Linked DNA regions of Homo sapiens. The protein of the gene in region 2 purifies or fractionates together with the protein of the main gene of each other region. This does not show direct contact. Each region holds a gene or a part of one and is shown on either strand. Other genes may lie near its edges.

Region 1 (3,656 bases), on a different chromosome or scaffold from region 2:
ATAAAATCCAAGCATTATTATTGGTTGATATGCCCCACACTTAAAAACCTGGCTTTTAGCAACACCAGCAAAATTATTCATTATGCTAAAACATACATACCTTGCATACTCAATATACCTCCCCATTCCTAGGTAAGCTTTGAAATTCAACTTTTCTCTCCTAGCTCCATAGGTTGTTAAAGAAGCAGCTTATCTTCTTGGTTCTTTCTTTTAGAATTGACACATATCCCCAGGAGAAAAGTGGTTGCAAAAGTCAGAGTAACCTTTGTAGGTTTTCTCCTTTTAAAGATATAAGACTGCAAGCCAAGTGCTGTGGCTCACTTCTGTAATCCCAGCACTTTGGGAGGCCAGGGTTGAAGATCACTTGAGCCCAGGAGTTTGAATCCAGCCTGGGTAATATAGGGAGACCCCATCTCTACAAAAAATTTAAAAAATTAACCAGACGTGGTGGTGCATACTTTTAGTTCCAGCTGCTAGGGAGCCTGAGGTAGGAGGATCGCCTGAACCCAGCTGGGTGACAGGCTGGGTGACAGTGAGGCTGCGTGACAAAGTAAGATCCTGTCTCAAAAAAAAAAAAAAAAGATATCAGACTTGTAAATCTTCACTGTCTTTGCTCTCTGATGTCTTCAAGTAATGCTTTAAAATATTTTGTTCATCTTTTATAGTTATCTTCAGTAGGAGATATATCTGAATTATCTAATCTGTCATTATTAGAAGGGAAAGTCCCCTTACCACTTAAATTTTGAACATTTTGAACACTAAACTTACTATATGTTTAGATAACATGACTGCAATATTTGGCTTTATTTCAAAGGTTCTGAAGCAAAAACACCTGGATGATTGCCTGCGACATGTATCTGTAAGAAGATTTGAATCATTTAATCTGTTTTCAGTAACAGAAGGCAAAGAAAGGGAAACTGAAGAGGAGGTTGGTGCATGGGTCCAATATACAAGCATCTTCTGTCCTGAATACAGTATCTCCTTAAGGTAACCATTATTCTAGTTAAGATTTTGTAAACACTAGATTTCTCTTGGATAAGAAAAACAATCTAATAAGAATCATCATTATTTATTCTATTGAGTTTACGGGCAATCTTTTTCAGAACTTAGGTTTTACAACTTGTTTTAGGAAATCCTGCTATTTTAACTGGGTCTTGCTGTATTATCAGACTAAAGGAAACAAGTTCTCACAAATATAGTGGCATTTGAAGATAAGGTGGTTGCAAATCAAAGGGTTCATTTAAACATTCTGTCATAACATTTGTTTATGACAAAAAGCCATGTTTGTTCTGAGGCAAAGAAGGGGCTGAAAGTGAAAACAGAATTTTTCCAAACTACCCTTCAAGTAATAATCTGAAAAATCAAGCTTTGGTATTTTTTCCATTTATTTATTTTTTTATTACTTTCAGAATAGAATCAATCTTAAGACTAAAGGAGAAAATTCAACTGAAAACACTGATATTGTAAGAAGCATATGGACTGTTCTGACTTTAAAAATCATTAGAAAAGAGACAAGAGAGTTACAGACTGCAATAACAAGATACCATTTTACTGAATTAATTTTCTCTCACAGTTATGTTCTAGCATGTTGCAATATTACTGTAGGTGTTTGATTTTATAAAATCTGCCTTTTCTGACAGTATTTCACATTTTGAAAGGGAGGGAGGAGCACATTTACAGTAACTGTAAGAAGAGCAAAAAACATTTTAAGTGTAAATGTGACTGAATAAGGTTTAGGTGAGGCTAGGAATAATTTTAAGAAAAAAATTTTCACAAAGGGTATCTTTTTATAGTATATGTTTCTCGAGCTATTTTAGTTTAGAATATCTAAGCTTTAAAACATAATAGCTAAAAATTGGGATTTGGATAAAAATTGACTAGGTTGGGCAGGAAAGAACAATTAGAATCTGGTTTTATAATACTATTTTACTGAAAATGCCGGCTGGGCGCAGTGGCTCATGCCTGTAATCCTAGCACTTCAGGAGGCCAAGGTGGGTGGATCACTTGACCCTAGGAGTTCAAGACCAGCCTGGGCAACATGGCAAAACCCCACCTTTACAAAAAATACAAAAATTAATTGGGCATGGTGGCATGTGCCTATGGTCTTAGCTACTCCAGAGGCTGAGGTGGAAAGATTGATTGAGCCCGGGAGGTTGAGGCTGCTGTGAGCTGTGCCATTGCATTCTAGCCTGGATGACAGAGTAAGACTCTGCCTCAAAAAAAAAAAAAAAAAAAAAAAAAATCAAAGTAAAGAAAATGCCAAATAAAATATATAAACTTACAGATTTTGGGGTGTACCTGTACATTAATTATGAGATTCTCATTAGGATACCCCAACTGCTTTGCCTTTTGATGGAGATAATCAGTTTTGTCCTTGGTTAGAAAGGAAAGAAAGGTATATGCTTACTCTGTGTCAGGTACAGAGCTAGGTGTTTTGATGTATTCCATTTCAAGTGATCCTTACAATAACTTTGTGAAGCAGGAATGGAAATGATTAAACATTTAGAAGGAAATGAAAGACAAGAAAGGACAGAGTGATCCAGTAGGGGTCTTTAGGTATAAAGTTCTAAAACTTATCTTCTGCATCCACTGGTGAAAAGAGACAATAAGTATAAATTATAGCAAGAATAATTTCCTGACATCTTCAAGGCCCTGGTAAGGGTTAGCCAGTGAGAATGTGAAATAGTCTCTTCTTGAGATCTTTCAAAGCAAGTCATGGTTATCCACTTGTAGAGATGATCCTCATGTAGTACTATCCAGAGCCCAAGCTATAGAGTAAACTGGGACTCCTTTCCAACAGCATTGTTCTTTGTGATATATCTTCTTGTGATATATGAAAGAATAAATGTATATCTATACAAATATGACATTGAGTTGGAAAAAAGACACGTGACTGAGCTAAAGTGTTGGCTTCATTGGCTGCCAAGATTTTTTTTTTCAAACTAGTTAGTATCTGTCCACATTAGTGCAAAAATAACAGTACTTTGGGAGGCCGAAGCAAGACGATCACTTGAGGCCAGGAGTTCAAGACTAGCCTTGGCAACATAGGGAAACCCTGTCTCTACAAAAAATTTTAAAAATTAGCCAGGGGTGGTGGTATGTGCTTGTAGTCCCAGGCACTCAGGAGGCTGAGGCAGGAGAATCCTTACAGCCCAGGATTTCAAGGCTGCAGTGAGCCATAATCATGCCACTGCACTCCAGTTTGGGCGATAGAGTGAGACCCCTTTAGGGATTACAGGCTTGAGCCACCATGCCTGGCCAGGGTTTCTGTTTTTTTTTTGTTTTGTTTTTTAATATTACTTGGAATAGCCCAAAGCAGTGGTTTAGAAGTAGTTTTGCAATGAAGTGGAGTACTCTCATCTTCCTCTATATTTTTTAAGTTTGTTTAATCAGCAGTAATGATGATTGAAAAAAAAGGGATGAATAGTGTTAAATTCAAACCAATAAATATTTAATAGCACCTTCTATATATATATAAAAAAACAGAAATAAATATAAATATACAATACTATGCTTAAGGAGCTGAAATAGATAAAAGTTAAATAATAAAAATAATTAAATAAGGAAAGTTAACTATTCAGTGTAAGAACTCTCACCAGGCTGTGCATAAGTACTTTCAAAATGAGTGGAATACTCACACTTAATAGAAGTTTAGA
Region 2 (3,756 bases):
TTAGGTTTCCTAGACTAATATGTGGTCCCTTTCAGCAGCATTAGCATTCAATGATCTTGTTAGAAAAGCAAATTTTAGTCCCTATTCCAGATCTACTAAATCAGAAATGCCGGGGGTGGGACACTGCAATCTGATTTTAGCAAGCTTTCTAAGGGATTCTGATGCAGCTAAAGTTTAGGAACCACTGTCTTAAAAATTAACTATGTGGTAGGAAATAATTGATTAATTGATTTCTTTTTCTTTCTTTTTTTTTTTTTTTTTTTTTTTTGAGAGGAAGTCTCACTCTTTTACCCCAGGCTGGAGTGCAATGGTACAATCTTGGCTCATTGCAACCTCTGCCTCCCAGGTTCAAGTGATTCTCCTGCCTTGGACCCCTGAGTAGCTGGGATTACAGGTGCCTGCCACCATGGCCGGCTAATTTTTGTATTTTTAGTAGAGACGGGGTTGTTTCACCATGTTGGCCAGTCTGATCTAGAACTCCTGACCTCAGGTGATCCACCCGCCTCAGCCTCCCAAAGTGCTGGAATTACAGGTGTGAGCCACCACACCTGGCCAATTGTTTTTCTTTATAGCATCAGCTTCTGAGTACTGGGCAAAACTTCCAGCTCTTTCTCACATATCCAAAATAATAGTTTTTGCAAGCATGCAATTTAGATCAGATATGAAATTTTCAGTTCCATAAACAGAATTAAAACATTGAACCTGAAATTTTGAAATCAGATGACTATAGAAAATTTATGAATCATACAAAGACTTGGCCGGGCATGGTGGCTCATGACTGTAATCCCAGCACTTTGGGAAGCCGAGGCGGGTGGATCATGAGGTCAGGAGTTTGAGACCAGCCTGACCAACATGGTGAAACTCTATCTCTTTTAAAAATACAAAAATTAGTCAGGCGTGGTGGCAGGCACCGGTAATCCCAGCTACTCAGGAGACTGAGGCAGGAGAATCACCTGAACCTGGAAGGCAGAGGTTGCAGTGAGCTGAGATGGTGCTACTGCACTCCAGCCTGGGTGACAGAGCCAGACTCCATCTCAAAAAAAAAAAAAAAAAAAAAAGACATATAGAATATTTCTCACATTTTTAGTGAATCCAGAATTTACTGATTATTTAAATAATTGCATATTATATTAATTGAAATAAAGTTATTTAATCTCCCTGGTTCTCATTGTTTTATCAGCAAAACAAAACTGATCTCAATGGAAACTTTTTCTCTAAAATCTTATGATTCAGGCATTCAACAATTTTATACTAAGGCATTAGAATACTTAATATTACATATAACATAGAATAGAGGAGATGATTACTATAACATTTAGCAATCCAAACACATATCCCCTATAAATAAAATATCTTAAAAACTGTGTTGTTTTCATGAAAGTCTAGTTAAGGTTACACAGCAGGTTTTACTTTTATGAGAAAAATTTAATAATACTTTTTGAGTTCATGTTCTTTGAGGGTGGCACTATTCAACCAAGCATACAAATGTTCTTGCTCTTGATAAGCCTCAGTGGTTAAAAGTACTTCCCAGGAGAATCCACAAATAAAAGGGATCTCTGTTTCCTTATTTCAAAACAACTGACTTGAAAAAGGAGGTCTGTTGCCCCCTTTTTTTAAGAAACTCTCTACCATGAAGATTCAACTTTTTTTCTTTATTCTGCACTTTTGGGTCACAATTTTACCAGGTAATATGCAAATATTTGTGGGGATTTATACTAACAAATTTGAGAAGACATAAGTTGTTTCTTGATAAAAAATATGATAATAACATAGGGATTAAAACATCATTTCACAAAAATGTAATGTGGTATTTTAGATTGGACTCCAGAACAGATAATAAAGACAATAGTGAAAAACAGACAAAAATAACAAGTATGAAAACTGGCAAAATCTGAATAGCTTAGTAAATACTATTACATCAACATTAATTCGTTAATCTTAATTAACATTACCAAGTTTATGCAATATATAACATAAGTGGAAGCTGGCTTCCACCAACTTTGCAACTCTTCTGTGAATCTAAAATAATATCATAACAAAAAGTGATGTGAGACAGAAATGGAGAGAGATTTTACTTTGTTGAAAGTAATGATCAGAGACTTCAGACAGATTGGACTTGAACAATGTATTTGAAGGCAGAAATAATAATTATTGAAATATCGAAGTATCACTAGACCAGTGGTTCTCAGAGAGGAGTGAATTTGTGCTCAAGGGAACATCAGGCAACGTCTAGAGACCTTTTAGCTCATCACAACTTGTACTACTGGCACAGTACCAGTTGTAGATAGAACCCAGGATGCTGCTAAATAACCTACAATGCATGGAACAGCCCCTTAGAGCAAAGAATTGTCCTATTCAAAAGATCAATATTGCTTAGAGTGAGACACCATGCCCTTGAGCTTGGCATCCAATTGACAGGGAGTATATTTAATTGATACTATTTGAATGAGGAGATGAATGCTTGCAAAGGAGATTAGCAATCCAAGGACACAAACTGGAGAACACATGTAGAGGTCAGAATGAGGAGAAAGAAGACAATAATGTTTTAGAAAGGTGAAATAAGACAAAGAATGAATAAGAGAAGGGGTGGGGTCAGTCCAAGGTGCATTCATGGACAACAGTGCCAAACATGACAGAACTTTTGCCAAAAGTGAGTATAATTCAGGTGTCTGTCACGGGTAATCACATATGGGTTTGATAATAATAACTCCTCAGAAAATGTAGAATAAGTAATGATCTTTAGAAGTGAATATTTAAATTGTGCAGATTAACTAGATGCTCTTCTATGCTTTTGTTTCTTTAAGTTGCTTCATACTCTGAATTGCTTTGGTTACATTGAGAAGAAAGCCAATATTAATAGTAGGACTTGGTTTTATAGCCATTATACCAATGACATAGATAATGTAGCTCTGAGTCTATGTATTAGCTAACAGGTATTACTACTCACCATCAGGTGTCAGCTGTTGGAACTGCAGACAGACTGCCTAGGCCAAAAGGCCTGGCCTTTGAGAAGACCAAGCAATAATTAATAGCAGGAAACAGTGGCATAATTTATTTGTTTTCATATGTGAAAATATTAAATCTGTCCTTTGGTCAAGAATTTGATGTGTATACAAAAAAAAAAGGCTACAAAACAAATGACTTCTGAAAACGAATCGGCCAGGGTACAATTTAAAATATAAAATAAAAAAATTTTGACTTGGTACAATTTAAAATATAAACTTAAAAAAATTGACTTGGAATAGATCACATAACCAATCAAACCAATGTCCTCAAACCCCCTAAATATATTCAATTCTAAATAAGAAACTTCTAGTGAGAGTCCATCTTTAAGCTAAAAAAAAAACATATCTTTTCTTACAGCTTTGACTATTACAAAGTTATTTTTGTATTGTGTCAAATTTTGTGTTTCTTATAATGTGCAAATTTTAGTTGCAGTTTTGCTCTCCTGGACATGTCTTCTTGTGACCCCAGCTACAAATCCCTCACCCATTCTTTCATGATTGATAAGAAAATATAAAGCCAGAGTAGGAGTTAACACACTTTTTCTAGAAATAAGTGAGACAACCAATATTGTAGGTTTTATGAACCCTATGATCTCAACTGCATTATTTTAATGCAAAAGCAGTTATAGACAATGTGTTAGCAAATGGGTGTGTCTGCGTGCCACTAAAATTACTTCCAAAAATAGGTGGCAGGGTGGATTTGGCTCCCTGACAATAGTTTATTGATTCCTAGTCAAAAGGTTTAATAGTA

Evidence for each region. The genes of interacting proteins can lie anywhere in the genome.
Region 1: the proteins of DEFB110 (region 2) and CAMKMT purify together in Homo sapiens (affinity purification with mass spectrometry; one large-scale study listed by BioGRID and IntAct). This does not show direct contact.

The regions. Positions count from the first base shown.
Region 1 is NC_000002.12:44,371,902-44,375,557, forward strand, and holds part of CAMKMT (calmodulin-lysine N-methyltransferase), read left to right. Parts: intron 1-814; coding exon 815-987; intron 988-3,656.
Region 2 is NC_000006.12:50,019,810-50,023,565, reverse strand, and holds the start of DEFB110 (beta-defensin 110 isoform a precursor), read left to right. Parts: upstream 1-1,571; 5' UTR 1,572-1,630; coding exon 1,631-1,685; intron 1,686-3,756.